Linked DNA regions of Homo sapiens: region 2 is linked to region 1. Evidence: fine-mapped expression QTL. A gene starts in region 1. The other region holds a variant in brackets. All regions are shown on one strand. Distances are between the middles of the regions. Region 1 holds the start of SMG8 (SMG8 nonsense mediated mRNA decay factor). Region 2 overlaps PRR11 (proline rich 11).

What was found.
Region 2: its variant is fine-mapped to the expression of SMG8 in whole blood (TOPMed, PIP 0.92).

The regions. Positions count from the first base shown.
Region 1 is chr17:59,204,552-59,214,457 of GRCh38, reverse strand. SMG8 (SMG8 nonsense mediated mRNA decay factor) reads right to left here and starts at 4,423. Exons shown (of 4, transcript NM_018149.7): 1 at 2,648-4,423; 2 at 1,972-2,117; 3 at 857-1,729. The coding sequence starts at 4,406. It overlaps PRR11 (proline rich 11), which reads right to left. Exons shown (of 10, transcript NM_018304.4): 10 at 7,749-9,906. RefSeq lists an enhancer at 4,545-4,614.
Region 2 is chr17:59,173,798-59,185,830 of GRCh38, reverse strand. PRR11 (proline rich 11) reads right to left here. Exons shown (of 10, transcript NM_018304.4): 3 at 627-777; 4 at 269-391. It also overlaps the pseudogene SPDYE22P. Among named protein-coding and RNA genes, the nearest start is that of PRR11, 24 kb to the right of the region's middle. RefSeq lists an enhancer at 2,952-3,453. The variant G/A (reference allele first, on the strand shown) is at 5,632.

The DNA of each region.
Region 1 (9,906 bases):
GCCTGTGCAACAGAGCGAGACTGTCTCAAAAAAACAAACAAATAAATAAATAAAAGAATATATAAGATTAAGCAGATATGGGTACACTCCTAACTCTAATTGTATCCAATAGTATATTATTTAGTCTCAAATATTATTCTGCTTTTCCCCAGAACTTTTTTTTTTGCAGGGGGAATGGAGTCTTTCTTAGTCACCCAGGCTGGAGTGCAATGGCGCGATCTCGGCTCACTGCAACCTCCGCTTACAGGTTGATTCAAGTGATTCTCCTGCCTCAGCCTCCCAAGTAGCTGGGATTACAGGCGCCTTCCACCACGCCTGGCTAATTTTTTGTATTTTTAGTAGAGACGGGGTTTCGCCATGTTGCCCAGGCTTGTCTCGAACTCCTGACTTCAGGTGATCCGCCTGCCTTGGCCTCCCAAAGTGCTGGAAATACAGGCGTGACTCACTGTACCCGGCCTTTTCTCCAGAATTTTAACTTCAAGTTCTGCCTTTGAATGAAATGATGTGAATTGATAGCATGAACGGATTAAAATACCCACAATGTATTTTTTAAAAAACAGAATATTAGGTATGGAAGGTATTTAAATTTAAGACCTGTTTAATTAAATAATTCGTTTTTTAATTTAATTTTTTGTAGAGATACAAGTCTCACTATGTTGCTCAGGCTGGTCTTAAACTCCTGGGCTCAAGCAATCCTCCCACCTTGGCCTCCCAAAGTTCTGGGATTACAAGCATGAGCCACTGCCCTCAGCCTGAAATAATTAGTTTTGAGGCTAACTTGTACTTTTTAAAATCAATCAAAACAAACATCAGCATTTTTTACTTGTTTGGGGCTGCAGAGGGTTATATTTCTTACCTGAGGCATTAGTATTATCTGCAAAGGAGCATCAGGAACCACAACAAAAAGCCTCATAAGTTGAGCATAATGAGGTTTCAGCCCTCTACCTTGAGAGGATGACAGAATATATAAGGGCATGTCACTATTTAGGGCTTTTAAAGCTGATTCCTTTGGCCCACTTCCCATTACTTTCATTACTTTGTCAGGCCCAGAGCACATGAATCTCCGACCTCGAGAGTCTTCATATTCAAAGCCCACAAAAGCTCGAGCTATGTCATCTCGCCGTCTTCCTCTTCCCATTACAACCGCACTTCTCTTTCCAGGAATAGCTTTATTTGGAGCAGGCCAAGAGTTTGTGTCTAAGTCTCCTTCATCTTCAGCTCTAGTCCTGATGACAATGTCCCAAGGCATAAGATAATTTGTTCCTGGAATAAAGCCCTGTTGGTCCAAACCTGTATGAAAGTTATAAGACTTAGCAGGGCCTAGTTTAACCAAAGACCAGCTGGAGAATTTGGGTAGGAGACCTTTAGGGCAATTTGAATGTAGCATGCCTGGGAGATACTCAACTGTGGATGCCTGTCGATCAACGAAGTTTGGCCTCTTCTCAGTTTTCACTTCTACTTGACCATGAACTTCTGGATTATCTCCTCCTGCTTGTGGATCAGCTGGATAGGTACCTAAGCTATCTGTGGATTGGCCCAAACTCAAAGCTAAACTCAGGCTCGTGCTCTCTCCTTGGGTTTGAGGTTCTTTTTCTTTAAGTTTATCAGCATCCGAATCTGGAGGAGCAGGAGAGGATTCATTTTTAGCAGGAGCAGGATCTGGAGTACTTGGTTCAAATACTGGGAAATTGATATGATCCAATTTTCCACAACACTTTTCTTCCAGAAGCTATAGAGGGTAAGAAAAAAAATCCAGTAAGTTTTTCATTTTAAATAATATTCTTCATTCTAACAAGATCAATAATTGATGTGTAAGTAAATATGTACACATAAAGAATTTGCTCCTGTTTATATATTATACTGCAGTTGCATTTGCTTTTCTACTTACTCTGCTATTGAAAATATGTTTTTACTCAGATGATATTTAACAAAAAAAGACAGAAGAGGAAGAAGAAAAAATTCAGAGTCTACCTGATAGAAGTCATAATTGGCTGCTTTGATATCAAAGGGATCATCTCGAGGTGCTTGTTTCCTTCCACAGTTGCAAGCACCAGTAGATCGAGCTCGGCTATTGTGATATAGCACAGGCGGATTTCTATCAGCCTCTGGTTTTTCTCCTGGAAAATATAACAGCCACTATTAATTTCATAAACACAATGTGCGAATTTACTTTGCATTCTACAACATCTAACCCCACAAACAAAAACCTTACCTAAATACACATAACAGAAGAAGCAAGTGAAAGTATATAAAATACTTTATATTATAAATGTAAAGTTTAGAGTTTTTAAGTGAATTTTTCCTCCTGCTACCATTATCATGTACCATCATCTAACATAACATTCATTTTAGTTCTACAAATCCTCCAAGGCAAAGTGTTAATATGAGATGTCTGAAATTTTATACTACTTAATAATTCTCACTTACCAATTCACTAGGACGTATCCTTTAAATGAAAAAAAATAAGAAAGTAGTCATAGCTGATATTTTCCTTTTACAGCAGGAGAGAAAACGTATAGCTGATGCACCTAAATTTCTGTAGGGCTCTTTCTAAAATATCAATACATAGTGAACAGACTATCTTAAAACAAGAATGAAAACACAGCTCAAAGTTTTTATTTCAAAATGCTGAACAAATTTTAGCTACCTGATTTAGGTAATGAGTGAAATTTGTGCACACAGTGTTGATCAGTTAAACTCCTCTCCTCACAGAGCTGATGGCCATTGCTCCAAAATTTGTAGCAGTCCTCATGTAACTGCATGGCGTATTTGTGAAATGCTGGACCTCTAGCATGTTGACTGTACACTCGAAGAGCCTGGGCAAGCTGATTCTTATGGACAGTCATTGTGTAATTATGAGGCAAATTTGACTGGTAGGCACTGTGGGCCATGGGTAAAGCTTTTTGGCATCGGTTTTCTGAGAATTTTGTGTCAATATCCAAAAATCCTTCCAAGACTTTAATACTGCTTAAAATCTTAGATGTTAGCTCTCCAGTGGGTGACCCCAAGTCCTCTTCTTTCCCATCAATAGCCACCTCATACAGTTTTGAAGCTGCTGAGATCCACTTCTGATAAGTAGGAAGTTCAAAATGGGAAGGCTGTGGGTTCCTGCCCACACTGTCATCGAAACCTTTCTTGCTTAGAACTAGCTCCACATGCTGCCATAGGAATTCCCGAAGAGTGAAATCCACTAGCTGGCCTGAAGAACTGGAACTGCTGCTGTCAATGTGAAAGGAAAGTTGTTGTCGGCTGTGCTGCCTCATCACCTGGTATCGCCTAGGCCCAGAAAGGGGTGCAGGCACCAGCAAAGATTCCGGGTCCTTCACAGTACAATGACTCCTAAGTTGGTCCAGCAACATACCTACTGGGTCCTCCTCCTGGCTTCCCGGTACTATGTACACGAAAGCTTGGTTGGCAGGCACAGTAAAGAGGCAGTTGATGCTCTGATTAGTCAAGACACGACTCTTCCGGAAGATTCTATAGATCTGGTCCTCCAGGGCATGCTGCAGCCTCCTTTTGGGAGAATGTTTCTTGGGCTTGTCTGGATGAGCTGGGTCTTGGTTCCGAGGAGGTTCTACCTTGAGGGCTCCATTGAGTTGAAAGAGGAAAAGGAGTCTAGGTGGGCAAGGTCGGCAGTTTAGCTTCCAGTCTTTGCCAACTGGACAATCCTTAATGGCTGTTTTAAGGAGCGGCAGGACCTTCTGTCTCAGCCCATCCAGGGCTCTGAATACTCGATCATAAGTGATATCAAAGGAACAAGTGGGATGGACCAGAAGCAAGATATGACAGACAGAGAATAGGTAAAGGAGACTGAGGCACTGCAGCTTCTCTTGATGCTTCCAGAACTCGTGTGCTTCTGCATGAGGTAAAGAGAGTCCACCTCCAGCTTCCCCGCTCTGAAGAGCCCGACAAGCCCGGAGAAGCTGTGAATTGTCACAGATGGAGGTGAGGAGAAGATACAGAACTTTGCTTTCCTGACTGTAGTAGGCCTGCAGAAGGCTGTAGTCCTGGGAGCCTGCCTCAGTTCGGTTACCTTCCGCGACAGCTCCACTTCCCCGAACTGAACCCCCGGCTGCAGCCCCAGGGTCCTCGGCTCCACCGGCCTCACCCACGGCGCCAGCCTCAGTTCTGATTCCAGGTCCTGGATCCCCAGGATCTTGGTGGCGAAAGAGAGGAAAGACCTGTCGGTCGCACACCGTATTCACAAGAGAGAACTTCTCGGAATTCAGGCGTAGAGCCGTCTTGCCGAAGATTCCCACAACGCAGATCTCATCCTCCCGCCATGGAGGCTCCGGTCCGCCAGCCGCGCTCCCTCCGCCCTCAGTAGGGGACCCTCCGGGACTTTCAGAGCCCATCCAGGCTGATGCTCCCATTAGAAGGTCTCGCAAGCTCACGGGACCAGCCATAGTGCAGAGCGTTCTCTAGAGTCCTTCCGGTCCGTTAGTAAAACCGACCGGCTTTCGTCCAATTTTGAAATCCTTCCTCCGCTTCTTCAGTTCCTGCTTTCCCGTCACTTGAGTTCCGCCTCCTCTTCTCCTCTCCTAGTTTGTTTCCTCAACTGTAGGAATTGAGATATCAAAAACAAAAAACAAAAAAACAAAACAAAACTGGGACTACTGCGGTGGCTCACGCCTGTAATCCTAGCACTTTGGGAGGCCAAGGCGGGCGGATCACCTGAAGTCAGGAGTTCGAGACCAGGCTGGCCAACATGGTGAAACCCCATCTCTACTAAAAATACGAAAATTAGCCGGGCGTGGTGGCGGGCGCCTGTAATCCCAGCTACTCGGGAGGCTGAGGCAGGACAATCGCTTGAACCCGGGAGGCGGAAGTTGCAGTGAACCGAGATCACACCATTGCACTCCAGCCTGGGCAACAAGAGCGAAAACCGTCTAAAAAAAAAAAAAAAAAAAAAAAAAAAAGCAAAAATTAGGCGTGGTGGCGCATACCTGTAGTTCCAGCTGCTCAGGAGGCTGAGGCAGGAGAATTGCTCGAACCAGGAGGTGGAGGTTGCAGTGAGCCGAGATCACCCCGCTGCACTCCAGCCTGGGCGACAGAGTGAGACTCCGTCTCAAAAAAAAAAAAAATTGCGAAATATCTTTGTATGTAAATTATAACTTGCAGAACCTCTCTAACTAGAAGGCATATTGACAAATAGCTGCCAGGATAAAACTTACAACCAGATTTAAATGTATAATTATAACGTTTATTATTCTGGGGTTTTGTAAAAAATAAAAATCTTTGAATCTAAAAAAATTATCTATAGCACTATACAATAACATGACTGAATCTTTAAAATAAATGTTGATTGAAAGAAATCAGAAACAAAAGTGTATATACCCTATAATTCTATTTTTTTTTTTTTTTTTTTTTTTTTTTGGAGATGCAGTCTTGCTCTGTGGCCAGGCTAGAGTTCAGTGGCGCGATCTCGACTCACTGCAACCTCCGGCTCCCCGGTGCAAGTGATTCTCTTGCCTCAGCCTCCCAAGTAGCTGGGATTACAGGTGCGTGAGACCACACCCAGCTAACTTTTGTATTTTTAATAGAGACAGGATTTCACCATGTTGGCCAGGATAGTCTCAATCTCCTGATCTCATGATCTGCCCGCCTCGGCCTCCCAAAGTGGTGGGATTACAGGCGAGAGCCACTGCGCCAGGCCTGATTTTATTTCTATAGAGTTCAAAAGCAAGCAAAATAAACCATTGCATTTAGGGGTGTGTTCTTACTAAAAGCAAGGAAATATTTATTGTACCAAGTAGGTCAGTGATTACTTAGTGAGGGAAGGGATTATGATATAATATATATATTATATATATACATAATAATATATATTACACATATACATAATAATATATATTATATATATACATAATAATATATATTATATATATTTTGAGACAGAGTCTTGCTCTGTTGCCCAGAGTGGAGTACAGTGGTGCAATCTAAGCTCACTGCAAACTCCACCTCCCAGGTTCAAGTGATTCTACTGCCTCAGCCTCCCAAGGAGCTGGGATTACAGGTGCACCACCATGGGCGGCTAATTTTTGTATTTTTAGTAGAGATGGTGTTTCACCATGTTGGCCAGGCTGGTCTCGAACTCCCGACCTCACATCATCCACCCACCTCGGCCTCCCAAAGTGCTGGGATTACAGGTGTCAGCCACCACACCTCGCCTCCGGCCTAAAATTTTTTTTTTTTTTTTTTGTGAGACAGAGTCTCACTCTGTCACCCAGGCTGAAGTGCAGTGGTGCTATCTGGGATCACGGCAACCTCCATCTCCTATTCCCTGTCTCCGTCTCCTCAAGCAATTCTTCTGCCTCAGCCTCCCAAGTAGCTGGGATTACAAGCACGTACCACCACGCCCACCTAAACTTGTATTTTTAGTAGAGATGGGGTTTCCCCACGTTAGCCAGGCTGGTCTCGAACTTCCAACCCCAGGTGATCTGCCCACCCCGGCCTCCCAAAGTGCTGGGATTATAGGTTTGAGCCATCACGCTCGGCATTGATTTTTTAATTCATATATTTTCTATACTTACTATATACTTTTTTGTTTTTTTGAGACAGAGTCTCACTCTGTTGCCCAGGCTGGAGTGCAGTGGCGTGATCTCAGCTCCCTGCAAGCTCTGCCTCCCGGGTTCATGCCATTCTCCTGCCTCAGCCTCCCAAGTAGCTGGGACTACAGGCGCCTGCCACCACGCCCGGCTAATTTTTTGTATTTTTAGTAGAGACCAGGTTTCACCGTGTTAGCCAGGATGGTCTTGATCTTCTGACCTCATGATCCACCTGCCTTGGGCTCCCAAAGTGCTGGGATTACAGGCGTGAGCCACTGCGCCCGGCCAATATATACTTTTCTATAGGTATTATTATTTCTAGTTAAAAAAAAAGGTTAAAAAGGGAAAAACCAAAACTTTTATTAATCTTTATTTAAAGATGCAAGGTAGAACACATTTTAACACTGTACAATGGCAGTAGCAGCTTTGCAAATGTTTATCTATATGGACTTTTTTTTCCTGCCTGGCTTCGTTATATAGCAAAGCATTTTTCTTTTTTCTTTCTTTTTTTTTTTTTTTTTTTTTTGAGACAGCATCTTGCTCTGTCACCCAGCAGGCTGGAGTGCAGGTGGTATGAACACTGCTCGCTGGAGCCTCAACCTCCTGGACTCAAGTGATTCTCCCACCTCAGTCTCCCGAGTAGCTGGGACTACAGGCACATGCCACCATGCCCGGCTAATTTTTTGTTTTTTGTAGAGACAGGGTCTTGCAATGTTGCCCATACTGGTTTCAAACTCTTGGCCTCAAGTGATCCTCCCACCTCAGCCTCCCAAAGTGCTGGGATTACAGGTGTGAGCCACTGTGCCTGGCCCCCAAGCCTATAATTTTTTAATTTATATATTTTTCTATACTTAACATATACTTTTTTTTTTTTTGAGACAGTTTCGCTCTTGTTGCTCAAGCTGGAGTACAATGGGGCGATCTCGGCTCACTGCAACCTTTGCCTCCCAGGTTCAAGCCATTCTGGCTCAGCCTTCCCAGTAGCTGGGATTACAGGTGTCTGCCACTATGCCCGGCTAATTTTTGTATTTTTAGTAGAGACAGGGTTTCACCATGTTGGCCAGACTGGTCTCGAACTCTTGACCTCAGGTGATCTGCCTGCCTCGGCCTCCCAAAGTGCTGGGATTATAGGCATGAGCCACCGCACCCGGCCAACATTTACTTTTCTATAGGTATTATATTTCTAGTTTAAAAAGAAGGTTAGAAAGAGAAAAACCAAAACTTTTATTAATCTTTATTTTAAAACATAACCAGATGCACCTTGGTTGTTTACATTCTCTGGTTGCCATTCAGTCTCAAAGTAAACACTGGGAGCATATGATAAATCGTAGTTTAAGGAAGCCATAGCACTTACAGAGTTCTCAAATGGTTACAATATAAAATCTGTCATAAAAATCAGTAAAAGATGCAAGGTAGAACACATTTTAACACTGGTACAATGGCAGTAGCAGCTTTGCAAATGTTTGTCTATATGATTTCCACAGGACTTTTTTTTTTTGCCTGGCCTCATTATGTAGCAAAGCATTTTTTCTTTTCTTTTTGAGATGGAGTCTTGCTCTGTTACCCAGCAGGCTGGAGTGCAGTGGTATAAACACAGCTCACTGCAGCCTCAACCTCCCGGGCTCAAGTGATTCTTCCACCTCAGTCTCCTGAGTAGCTGGGACTACAGGCACACATCACCGCTCCCGGCTAATTTTTCGTTTTTTGTAGAGTTGGGGTCTTGCAGTGTTGCCCAGGCTTGTTTTGAACTCTTGGCCTCAAGCGAACCTCCTGCCTTAGCCTCCCAAAGTGCTAGGATTATAGGTGTGAGCCACTGCACTGGGCCATAAAGCATTTTTCTTTTTCTTTCTTTTTTTTTTGAGACAAGGTCTCACTCTGTTGCCCAGACTGTAGTGCAGTAGTGTGATCTCAGCTCACTGCAACCTCCACTTCCATCGTTCAAGTGATTCTCACGCCTCAGTCTTCTGAGAAGCTGAGACTATAGGCACATGCCACCACACCCAGATAATTTTTATATATTTTTTTTGGTAGAGACGGGGTTTCACCATGTTGGCCAGGCTGGTCTCAAACTCCTGACCTCAAGTGATACACCCACCTCGGCCTCCCAAAGTGCTGGGATTACAGGTGTGAGCCACTGTGCCTGGCCCCCAAGCCTATAATTTTTTAATTTATATATTTTTCTATACTTAACATATACTTTTTTTTTTTTTTTGAGACAGTTTCGCTCTTGTTGCTCAAGCTGGAGTGCAATGGGGCGATCTCGGCTCACTGCAACCTCTGCCTCCCAGGTTCAAGCCATTCTGGCTCAGCCTTCCCAGTAGCTGGGATTACAGGTGTCTGCCACTATGCCCGGCTAATTTTTGTATTTTTAGTAGAGACAGGGTTTCACCATGTTGGCCAGACTGGTCTCGAACTCTTGACCTCAGGTGATCTGCCTGCCTCGGCCTCCCAAAGTGCTGGGATTATAGGCATGAGCCACCGCACCCGGCCAACATTTACTTTTCTATAGGTATTATATTTCTAGTTTAAAAAGAAGGTTAGAAAGAGAAAAACCAAAACTTTTATTAATCTTTATTTTAAAACATAACCAGATGCACCTTGGTTGTTTACATTCTCTGGTTGCCATTCAGTCTCAAAGTAAACACCGGGAGCATATGATAAATCGTAGTTTAAGGAAGCCATAGCACTTACAGAGTTCTCGAATGGTTACAATATAAAATCTGTCATAAAAATCAGTAAAAGATGCAAGGTAGAACACAGTTTAACACTGGTACAATGGCAGTAGCAGCTTTGCAAATGTTTGTCTATATGATTTCCACAGGACTTTTTTTTTTTTGCCTGGCCTCATTATGTAGCAAAGCATTTTTTCTTTTCTTTTTGAGATGGAGTCTTGCTCTGTTACCCAGCAGGCTGGAGTGCAGTGGTATAAACACAGCTCACTGCAGCCTCAACCTCCCAGGCTCAAGTGATTCTCCCACCTCAGTCTCCTGAGTAGCTGGGACTACAGGCACACATCACCGCTCCCGGCTAATTTTTCGTTTTTTGTAGAGTTGGGGTCTTGCAATGTTGCCCAGGCTTGTTTTGAACTCTTGGCCTCAAGCAATCCTCCTGCCTTAGCCTCCCAAAGTGCTAGGATTATAGGTGTGAGCCACTGCACTGGGCCATAAAGCATTTTTTCTTTCTTTCTTTCTTTTTTTTTTTTTTGACACAGGGTCTCACTCTGTTGTCCAGACTGGAGTGGAGTGGTGTGATCTTGGCTCACTGCAACCTTCACCTCCAGGATGCACATAATTCTCGTGCTTTAGCTTCCTGAGTAGCTGGGGCTATAGGCACATGCCACCACGCCTGGATAATTTTT
Region 2 (12,033 bases), 30 kb after region 1:
CAAGCATTGGTATGCTGAAGAACCTTCAGGAAAAGATGTTCCCTGATCCAATCAGCTATCTGATCAGATTATCCCAGCTCTTCATCTTACTTCCCCATAACCCAGTTTGTTCTACCCTTTGTATTCCTTGCTAACAAAGAAAACTTTTTCGCTTAATGTTTGAGATATAAATCTTATGACTTGAGCATTTTCCCTATTGCAATAGTCTTTTCAAAAAAAGTGTCTCCTTACCTAATTCCAGATTTGCTTTTTATTTGACAATACCAACCTTCAGTGCTTCCTGGAGCTTGCATAATTTACTTTCCAAAATGCAAAACTGTTGTTTTACACTGTAAAGTTCTCGGTGGCAGATACGAGATGGAAAGATGGTGTCTTTCAATACTTCTAAACTCTGAAATTAATAATAAACAATTCTGAGTCCTATGAGTAATATGATAAGGACAAGAAAACAGGAACCAGAAAGTGACTTGATGTATGTTTTTATAGAAGCAAAGGCAGACTTGACTCAATAATTTCATCTTATCTAAGTTTAGCTTGAGGGTTGGACTGACTTGAGCACATATGTATATAAACACCAAGTGTGTAGAAAAACTATAGCACTGAAAACAGGGATGTCACATCCATACCTGGGTTATGCAGTTCTGGCACCAGCTGTATATAGACCATACTCTATTTGTCCAAAGTTTTATTGCATCTCTGATGTTAGGAAAATTGAAGTTCCAGGATGATGTTAGCCAGCTTCTGCTTTGAGATATATCTATTGAAGAAATACCGACTCTGTAGGAAAAACAAAATGAAACAAATAAAAAACCCCTAAGTCAGAATAATAGCCTTGGCCTGGTGTGGTGGCTCATGCCTCTACTGCTAGCACTTTGGGAGGCTGAGGTGAGGAGATTGCTTGAGACCAGGAGTTCAAGACTAGCCTCGGCAACATGGCAAAACCCTGTCCCTGCCAAAAAAAAAAAAAAAAAAAAAAAAAACTTAATCAGGCATGGTGGTGTGCCAGAAGAGAGAAGAATATGCAAACCAGGTTTGAAGATGGGTTAAATCAGAGCTTTTCATTCCACAAAAGAGAACTTTTAATGGGGTCAGAACATTGATCTTCTAATATATGAAAGCCTGTTAACTAGGAGAGAGATAGCAAACTGTTTTGTCAGGACCCACCCAGCTCTGGCGGTTTAAAGCGTCATGAATGGAAATTTGAACTCCAGAAAAGCAGAGCTTCCTACCAATGGGACTTCCATAGCAATGGGATCTGCTTCCTCATTCAGTTTGGGCCTTTCCCATGAGCAAGAGACTCCTAGGAGAGCCACAGCCCATTAGGAAGCCATATGGGAACTCACTCACAGGTTCTTTGTTTATTTTTTTGAGACGGAGTTTTGCTCTTGTTGCCCAGGCTGGAGAGCAATGGTGCGATCTTGGCTCACGGCAACCTCCGCACCCCGAGTTCAAGTGATTCTCCAGTCCCCGCTCCTGAGTAGCTGGGATTACAGGCACCCGCCACCATGCCTGGCTAATTTTTTGTATTTTTAGTAGAGACGGGGTTTCACCATGTTGGCCAGGCTGGTCTCACACTCCTGACCTCAAGTGATCCACTTCCTTTGGCCTCCCAAAGTGCTGGGATTACAGGCGTGAGCCACTGAGCCCGGCCAGGAACTGACAGGTTTTTTGGATGGTCTCTGAATGTCATCCAACTCTTTTATTTTTTATCAAAAAAATTTTTTTTGACACAACGTCTTGCTGTGTTGCCTAGACTGGAGTGCGGTGGCAAGATCATAGCTCACTGCAGCTTCTAAGTCCTGGGCTCAAGCGATCTTCCTGTCGCATGAGTCTCCCAAGTAGTTGGAACAAGGTGCCAGCCACCACACCTGGCTAATTTGGTTTGGTTTTGTTTTTTTAGAGATGGGGTCATGCTATGTTGCCTACACTGGTCTTGAACTGCTGGCCTCAGGCAATCTTCCTCCCTTGGCCACCCAAAGTGCTGGGATTACAAACATGAGCCACTGTGCACAGCTGAGATTTTTCGACTTAGTCTTTTTGTACATGCGATATTTTATTCATAGAATCCATAAATGGTAGGGAAATTTCTGAGTTCAGAGCAATACATATGATACAAAACTTAATATATAGACTAGAGTTTCTTAGCCGAACTGGAGGGGCTGGCCTTAGGTAATCCATGGACTCCCTGAAACTGGGGACACCATTGGAAATATGAGTGAGCTCATGGGCAGTTTCCTATGATTTTCAGGCCTCAAAATGTCTCTTGGACTCAAAGATGCCTTACGGCAGAGGACACGTGTACCCCCAGTATAGAATCTCGGACAGTGAATGTCAGTAAACATTCGGCAGAAAAGCTCTGCCAAATTGAGTGCTCTGATGTGACTTTTTCATCAAGTCAATGTTCCTGGGATCTCTTGTATATGATAATCTCACACTTGTAAGGTTTCATAGTTTCTGCTTACCCTAGTTTTCTTTCCCACCCTCCCTCTCCCACCAGACTGGACTCTGAAATGGGCATGTACAGAGAAGAGGAGACCCCAAAATGCTTCAGGCTTTGAGTGGAGAAGACACAGCCTCTGCTGGGACAGGGAACAGATGGATGCGGAGACCCTGAAGATGCTTTTGGATGGTGGTCTGAGGTTGGGACAGTGGCAGGAGATACCATTCACCCAGGATCTCCAGGACAAGAGACCAGCCTGGCAGTTACATGTGTTTTTCTTCAAACTGGTTGCCAGGTTGGAATGACCAATGACATCAGAGATTCCAACCTTCCTGATTGGAAGGACTGGACTCCATGGGCATCTGGGAGCTCAAGTGGACAACTGCATCTTCTCAGAGCTGTTCTCCACTCCTGACTTCTCTCAGCCTCGAGAATTGATAACACACCTTCTGGGTCCTAGCAGAGTCCAGAAGAAGGCCTTGGATAGAACAGAGACTAGGTTCCGTGGGTTGGGATAGATTTTGGGAAAGATCATGACCAGCCATCAACCGCACCCCCAGGATGAGGAGCAGAGCCCCCAGCTGAGCACCTCAGGGTACCCCCTCCAGGAGGTGGTGGATGATGAAGTGTCGGGACCATCAGGTGAGGGGACTGGAGGAAGAAGAGGTGGGATAGGATTGACTAAGGTGAAGGAAGGGGGCCAGGTGCAGTGGCTCACACCTGTAACCCTAACACTTTGGGAGGCCGAGGCGGATGGATCACCTGAGGTCAGGAGTTCAAGACGAGCCTGGCCAACATGGTGAAACCCCATCTCTACTAAAAGTACAAAAATTAGCCAGGTGGTAGTGGTGCGCGCCTGTAATCCCAGCTATTTGGGAGGCTGAGACAGGAGAATCACTTGAGCCTGGGAGGAAGAGGTTGCAGTGAGCCAAGATTGTGCTACCGCACTCCAGTCTGGGTGAGAGAGTGAGACACTGTCTCAAAAAAAAAAAAAAAAAAAAGAAGGGTCAGAGGTCAGGAAGGAGAACCTGAGGAGGGTGTATGGGAAGAATGGAGAAATTCAGGCCAGGTGCAGTGGCTCACACCTGTAATCCCAGCACTTTGGGAGGCCAAGGCGGGCAGATCACTTGAGGCCAGGAGTTTGAGACCAGCCTGGTCAACATGGTGAAACCCCATCTCTACTAAAAGTACAAAATTGAGCTGGGCATTATGGCAGATACCTGTAATCCCAGCTACCTGAGAGGCTGAGGCATGAGAATAACTGGAATCCGGGAGACAGATGTTGCAGTGAACTGAGATTGCACCACTACACTCCAGCCCGGGCGACAAAGCAAGATTCTGTCTCGAAACAAAAAAAAAAAAAACCAATAACAAAAAAACAAGCAAAAAAGGAGGGACTCAGAGAGCCAGGGACCAGGGAAGGACATGAAGAAGTGTTCTGAGGACAGAGATACGGAAGAATGGGGAGGGGAAGGAGCGGCTCATGGGGTTGAGCAGAGGAGAAAGCCAGAAAGATGGCTTGGAGAAGCCAACAGTCTGCAAGGCTGGGGAGGATGGAGAGTGGTTTGGGGTTGGGGTCGGGGTCGGGGTCTAAGGTGATCAGTTGCAGAAGCATTACATGGTGGCCTGGTTTCTTTACTCAGCCCCTGGGGTAGATCCCAGCCTCCCATGTAGGTCCCTTTGCTGGAAAAGGAAGAGGGAGTGGTCGGACCAATCTGAGGAGTCATCGGAGGAGGCGCCAGAGAAGGAGCTCGCCCCTGAGCCTGAGGAGACCTGGGTGGCGGAGATGCTGTGTGGGCTCAAAATGAAGCTGAAGCTGAAGCAACGGCTAGTGTCATTCGTGCTCCCTGAGCACCATGAGGACTTCAACAGGCTGCTTGGTAGGAGGACACCCCAGAGAGCACCTCCAATCCTGTTCTTTTAAAAACGAGGAAAACTTTCAATAACCACACTTTTCCAATGGGAAAAATATGCCCCCAGTGGGTGAGCTCTCCATGCGGGAGGACTCAGAAGTGATCACTCATGAGGGACGCTTAGGAGATGATAGAGGATTAGGCTGGAGTTGATAAAGTTTGGCTCTCGGGATAAGAAAGCTTGGTTTTGGGCTGGGCGCTGTGGCTCACGTCTGTAATCCCAGCACTTTCGGAGGCCGAGGCGGGCGGATTACGAGGTCAGGAGATCGAGACCATCCTGGCTAACATGGTGAAACACAGTCTTTCTAAAAATATAAAAAATTAGCTGGGCGTGGTGGTGGGCGCCTGTAGTCCTAGCTACTTGGGAGGCTGAGGCAGCAGAATGGCGTGAACCCCGGAGGTGTTGCTTGCAGTGAGCTGAGATCGCGCCACTACACTCCAGCCTGGGTGACAGAGAGAGACTCTGTCTCAAAAAAACAAAAAAACAACAAAAAAAGAAAGTTTGGTTTCGGGACAGGTGCTGTGGCTGATGCCTGAGATCCCAGCACACTGGGAGGCTGAGGCAAGAGAATTGCTTGAACTCAGGACTTTGAGGCTGCAGTGAGCTATGACTGCACGACTGCACTCCAGCCTGCATGACAGAACAAAACCCTGTTTCAAAAGAAAACCAAAGGCCGGGCGCAGTAGCTCATGTCTGTAATCCCAGCACTTTGGGAGGCTGAGGCGGGTGGATCACCTGAGGTCAGTTGTTCGAGACCAGCCTGACCAATATAGTGAAACCTAGTCAATACTAAAAATACAAAACTTAGCCGGGTGTGGTGGCGCACGCCTGTATTCCCAGCTACTTGGGAGGCTGAGACAGGAGAATCTCTAGAACCCGGGAGGCAGAGGTTGCTTTGAGCCGAGATAGCACCACTGCACTCCAGTCTGAGAGACTGAGACCCTGTGGCAAAAAAAACAAAAAAAACAAAAAAAAAAAAACAAGGACGGGCCCAGAAGTCAGGAAGGAGCACCTGAGGAGGTGTGTGGGAAGAATGGAGGGACTGAGGCAGGGTGCAGTGGCTCACACCTGTAATCCCAGCACTTCGGGAGGCCAAGGCAGGCGGATCACTTGAGGCCAGGAGTTTGAGACCAGCCTGGCCAACATGGTGAAACCCCATCCCTACTAAAAGAACAAAAATGAGCTGGGCGTTATTACGGGCACCTGTAATCCCAGCTACTTGGGAGGCTGAGGCAGGAGAATCACTGGAACCTGGGAGACGGAGATTGCAGTGAGCC[G/A]AGATTGCACTACTACACTCCAGCCTGGGCGACAAAGCAAGACTCTGTGTCAAAAAAAAAAAAAAAAAAAAAGGAGAGACTCAGAGAACTAGGGATGAGGGAAGGAAATGAGGAAGTGTTCTGAGGACAGAGAGATGGAAGAATGGGGAGGGGAAGGAGCGGCTCATGGGGTTCAGCAAAGGAGAAAGACGGAAAGATGGCTTGGAGAAGCCAGCAGTCTGCGAGGCTGGGGAGGATGGAGAGTGGTTTGGCGTTTTGGGTCTGGCTCTAAGGAGTTCAATTGCAGAAGCATTATACAGTGGCCTGGTTTCTTTACTCAGCCCCTGGGGTAGATCCCAGCCCCCTGTGTGGGTCCCTTTGCTGGAAAAGGAAGAGGGAGTGGTCGGACGAATCTGAGGAGTCATCGGAGGAGGAGCCAGAGAAGGAGCTCGCCCCTGAGCCTGAGGAGACCTGGGTGGCGGAGACGCTGTGTGGGCTCAAGATGAAGCTGAAGCAATGGCGAGTGTCACCCGTGCTCCCTGAGCACCACGAGACTTTCAACAGGCTGCTTGGTAGGAGGACACCCCAGAGAGCACCTCCAATCCTGTTCTTTTAAAAAAGAGGAAACTTCCAATAACCACACTTTTCCAATGGGAAAAATATGCCCCCAGTGGGTGAGCTCTCCATGCGGGAGGACTCAGAAGTGATCACTCATGAGGGACACTTAGGAGATGATAGAAGATTAGGATTAGGTTGGCAATTGGGATAAGAAAGCTTGGTTTTGGGCCAAGTGCGGTGGCTCACGTCTGAGATCCCAGCATGTTGGCAGGCTGAGTTAAGAGGATTGCTTGAACTCAGGACTTTGAGGCTGCAGTGAGCTATGATGGCACCACTGCACTCCAGCCGGGGTGACAGAGCAAAACTCTGTCTCAAAAGAAAAAGCACAGTAGCTCAAACCTGTAATCCCAGCACTTTGGGAGGCCGAGGCAGGTCAGGAGTTAGAGACCAGCCTGACCAACATAGTAAAATCTGATCTCTACTAAAAATACAAAAATTAGCCAGGCGTGGTAGCACACGCCTGTAATCCCAGCTACTCAGGGGACTGAGACAGGAGAATCGCTTGAACTCGGGAGGCCGAGGTTGCAGTGAGCTGAGATCATGCCACTGCATTCCAGCCCGGCCCACAGAGCGAGACTCCATCTCAATAAATAAATAAATAAATCAATAAATCACAATAAAAAATCAAAGAAAGCGGCTTCAGCTGTGCCCTCTGAAACTTAATGTCTCTTGCTGACTTTTCTAAACCTAAGTGTCTCCATCCATAGAGGGGGATACCTAGGCCATAGTCACACCCTGATGTGACTGTCTCATGAGGAAATGATGGGAATTCCTTTATGACTCTGCAGTGGTCCCTCTGTGTCTGCTGGGAGGGCATTCTGGCTTTTTGCCAGCTCTACATCCTGTAGATTCTCACACCCAGGGCCTCCTTCAGCCTCTTCTCAGGGGAGTCTCAGAGCGGGAGCCTCTCTCCCTTGCCCAGTGAAAGTCATTCTCCTCTTTCCCATCCACCTCACCTGTGGCAGCAATCCTGAGACTTCCCCCTGGGAGACACACTTCTCCTTGCTGCCCTGCTGCTCCCACGGAAACCCTGTCCTGCTTTTCAAGCTGACATCTACTCTCTAATCACAGAGGATCCTGTCATTAAAAGCTTCCTCGCCTGGGACAAAGATTTGAGGTTGTCAGACAAGGTAAGTTTGTTCTCCACGGAACCGTGTTCCTGCTTCAGTGCACTGCCAGGGGGAGGGTGCAGCTTCTAAACCCACAGTTCCTCTCTTCTCTCCCTCCAGCACTTCCCACCAGATGCTCCCACAGTCTTCTTTTCTTTTTGTGAGACAGTCTCGCTCTGTTGCCCAGGCTGGAGGGCAGTGTCTCAACCTTGGCTCACTGCAGCTGAAGCCTCCTGGGTTCAAGGCATTCTCCTGCCTCAGCCTCCCAAGCAGCTGGGATTACAGGCATGCACCACCATGGCTGGCTAATTTTTGTGTTTTTAGTAGAGATGGGGTTTTGCCATGTTGACCTGGCTGGTCTTGAACACCTGACCTCAGGTGTTCCGCTTGCCTTGGCCTCCCAAAATGCTGGGATTACAGATGTGAGCCACTGTGCCCCTCTGGCTCCCACAGTCTTGAGTCTTGGTGCCCACCTGTTTTTTTTTTTTTTTCGAGACAGTATCTAGCTGTGTTCCACAGGATGGAGTGCAGTGGCATGATCACAGCTCACCACAGCCTCTAATTCCTGGGCTCTTGCAATCCTGCCTCAGCCTCCTGAGCAGTTGGGAGTACAGGCACATGCCATCATGCTCGAATAATTTTTATACAAACAGTCTTGCTATGTTGCCCAGGTTGTTCTAGAACTGTTGGACTCACTTGATCCTCCTGTCTCAGCCTCTCAAACTTCTGGGATCACAGGCTTGAGCTGCCACTCCCGGCTATTCTTGGTCTTTTTATTATTTGTCAGCATCTCCCTCAGGACTCTGCTGGTCTCTTGCTGAGTGAATGAGTGGCCCCTGCCTCTCCTATGGGTCATTTGGGATCTGAGCTCTGGGCCACAGTCAGGCCGCAGCCCTGAAGCTCCTAGCCCCTTTACTCTCAGTTCTTTGGGACAGTTCTCTGCCTGGCACACAAAAGACCCTCCTGATACCAGCCGACCTAGACACACTCCTTCAAAGATCTCATCAGAGCCCACCATCCTGGGAGCATCACCAACATGCCTTCCTCCAGCTTCTCGGATTTGCATCCGACCTTCAAATACCCCACCACCCCGCAATTTCCACATGAGCACAGTCACCCCAACACTCAGGTCCCTTCTCTGATGGGCAAACCCTCCCTAGACCCCCATTCCACTGTCTCCACGATCTTCCTCTCCCAAGATGTGACCTCTCCCTTTCTGTGTTCCTTTCTCTCCACCAGTATCTCCTGGCTATGGTCATAGCATATTTTAGCCGCGCCGGCCTCTTCTCCCGGCAATACCAATGCATTCATTTATTCCTGGCTCTGTGAGTGGTTTGCTTCCTCCTATCTGTCAATATCCAATACCCTGGGACAGCGGGGGAAGTGGGATTCCAGCCTTTCATTTATTCTTGCACCTATTTGTCCTCTTTACTCTGTGTACAAAAAAGAGGATTATACTATCTTGTTTTTAGACTGCTGTTTCTAAAAAGAAACTCAGGCTGGGCGCGGTGGCTCACGCCTATAATCCCAGCACTTCGGGAGGCCGAGGCAAGCAGATCACTTGAGGTCAGGAGTTTGAGACCAGCCTGACTAACATGGCAAAACCCCATCTCTACTAAAAATAGAAAAATTAGCCAGGCATGGTGGTGTGCACCTGTAATCCAAACTACTCGGGAGGCTCAGGCAAGAGAACCCGTTGAACCCAGGAGGCAGACATTGCAGTAAGCTAAGTTTGAGCCACTGCATTCCAGCCTGGGCAACAGAGCGAGACTTTTTCTCAAAAAAAAAAAAAAAAAAAAAAAAAAAAAAGCCAAAAAAACCAAATTCCAACGCCAGTGTACAAATAAAAGAATAAAACAAAAGGAACCATAAACCGCTCCTAAGGGGAGAAGAAAAGGAGCAAAGGAGCGGACACGATGCTTCCCCCAGCAAGCAGACATTTCTGGTTCTTCTGTCTCTCTCCTTCCCATATCAACTGCAAACGCCATCGACCTCCTCCGGGTTCCCATGACAGAGGCAACAGTTCAGGTCCCCCTTGCATCACTCGAATCCACTGTCAAATGCTCCCTGCTGGGGCCTCCTGGAGTCTCTCCCCAAGCCTGGGGGCTTCCTAGTGCAGCCTGAGCGTCTTTCCAAAGCACAACACCCTCACTGCCCACCTGAACAACTTCCTTAGCTGATGTCTTTCTAAATTGAGGCCAGGGTCCACAGTGCAAATTCCACCCTCTCTATAATCTCTACAACCAAACTGGCTCGCCATCTTGGTGTTTCCTGGTGTGGCTTCACCGCTCTTTCCAAATGCCCTCCACTCGACTTTGCGTTTGTGTTTTCTGTCTGGGTGTCCCGCACACATGTGGTTCTGAAGGGAAGGACCCATTCCTTAAAGTCAGTTCACCCCATAGCCTCTGTGATGCCTTCCCTCATCTTGCAACTTTTACATGCTTGTAGCTCTCCAGTTACATCCTATTATAATGTGATATTGGGATTACGTCATCTGCCCTGATTACTCCCAGTCCCATTAGACTAGATGCCTGTAGAAGGCAGGGTCTTGGCACAATATCAATGTATTCAATTTCTTTTATTTTTTTGAGACAGACTTGCCCTGTCCCCCAAGCTGGAGTGCAGTGGTGAGATCATAGCTCACTGCAGCCTCCATATCCTGTACTCCAGTGATCCTCCCACCTCAGCCTCCGGATTAGCTTTGACTACAGGGCTGTGACACCACACCTGGACAGTTATTTATTTATTTATTGAGACAGAGTCTTGTTCTGCCTCTGAGGCTGGAATGGAGTGGCCCAATCTCGGCTCACTGCAACCTCCTCCTCCTGGGTTCATGTAATTCTTGTGCCTCAGCCTCTTGCGTAGCTAGGACTAAGAGGTGTGCCACCACACCAGGCTGATTTTTGTATCTTTAGTAGATATGGGGCTGGTCTCGAACTCCTGGCCTCAAGCGACCCACCTGCTTCAGCCTCCCAAATTGCTGGGATTACAGGCATGAGCCACCACGTCTGGCGTGTCTTTTACATTTTTTATAGAGACGAGGGTCTTGCTATGTTGCCCAGGCTCATCTCAAACTCCTGGCCTCAAATGATCCTCCTGCCTCAGCCTCCCAATGTGCTGGGATTCCAGGCGTAAGCCACCACTCTCGGCCACCAGTTGGGTTTTTGTCTTCATCCTGAAGGAGTGGGAGACGCCCTTCAGCAGGTCTCTGACAATCAGGGCCCTCCTGAGGAAGGCATGGTTCTGCAGGGTGGGTGCCAGTCCTGAGCTGAGGATCGTCCCCTGCCCTCCTCTCTGGGAAGCTGACCTCAGCCAGAGGTCTCTCCTGGTGGTGTCCCTGAGCGGCAACCTGATTTCTGTCCCCAGCTACCTGGCCAATGACATGGAGGAGGACAACGAGGCCTCCAAATGAAACATTTTCTACTTCCTGTACGGGAAGAACCACTCCCAGATACCCTTGTTCCATAAACTTCGGTTCCAGTTCTTCCGTTCCATGCGCTGGAGGGCTTGGGTTTCCCTGGAGTAGTTGGAGGAGGTAGGCGGGGTGGGGGTAGGTGGAGGAGGTGGGGAGGAATCAGGTGGGCTGGAGGCTGGACAAGGGGAGGGAGGGGTATCCTGGGGAGTCCCCATCTTCTTAAGGGGCGTTTGTTTTTCCAGATCCAGGCTTATAACCCAGAGCACTGGGTGTGGGCACGAGATCGCACCGCGTTTCCTAGAGCTCCAGGGACTGTGAGGCCTGAGGTCATCAGCCTGAGGGAAGGTACATCTGTGTCCTCTGGGGTAAAGGCAGAATATTGGGGTCTATTTTGGAAATCCGAGGAACCCAATTGCTTGATCCGGCTTCGAGCCTGGGCAACATGGCGAGATCCCCTCTCCATAAAAATACAAAAATTAGCCAGGTGATGTGGGAGGATCACTGGAGCCTGGGAGGTTGGGGCTGCAGGGAGCCCTGATCCTGCCACTGCACTCCAGCCCGAGCAACAGAGTGAGACCCTGACTCAAAAATAATCATAAATACTGAGTTCGGGGAGGTTCATTATGATTGACACACTTGAGTTACCGATTTGGGTCGAGGGTTCAGTGAAGCTTTGGTTCACATCTTGTGCAGCTAACCACGTTCAGCACAGAGCATGAGACTTCATCATGAGGAGGTAGGATTATGGATTAGGCTTCTGGACTCAGGGTTTGTGATGTTGTCACATTAGAAACGGATCTAGCATGGTTACGAGTTTAGCTCTTAAGTAATGCAAAAGGCCCCAGTTGTGATGAAGTCCAAAGCCACATTCTTTGAGGGTGCCCTACTCCCTGGGCAGACCCACCCAAAGTCCTTGCTATGAAGCAGATCACTGGGGCTGACCTTGGGTATATTGAGTGAGTTTTGGAGTCAGGGTTACCAAACTGTGAGTTTCACAGCTGAACACGATGGTTCAGAAGCAGGCTATAGAATGAAGGACAGGAGATAAAATTTGATTTCTCAACTGCTCTGAACTCTAGTTAGACTTGATGTGGGACGTGAATAACCTTCCTGTCTAGAGAGCCGCCTCCTTTAAGTATGACATCCTCTCTCTCACTTCCAGAACACCGGATCCAGGGGAGATGTGAATTTTCAGCAGGAACTTTATTCCATTGCTAATGACAGACACCAGGAAGGAGGAGAGGAGCCATTTGTGCAGATCATCTAGAAGAACCTGGACTG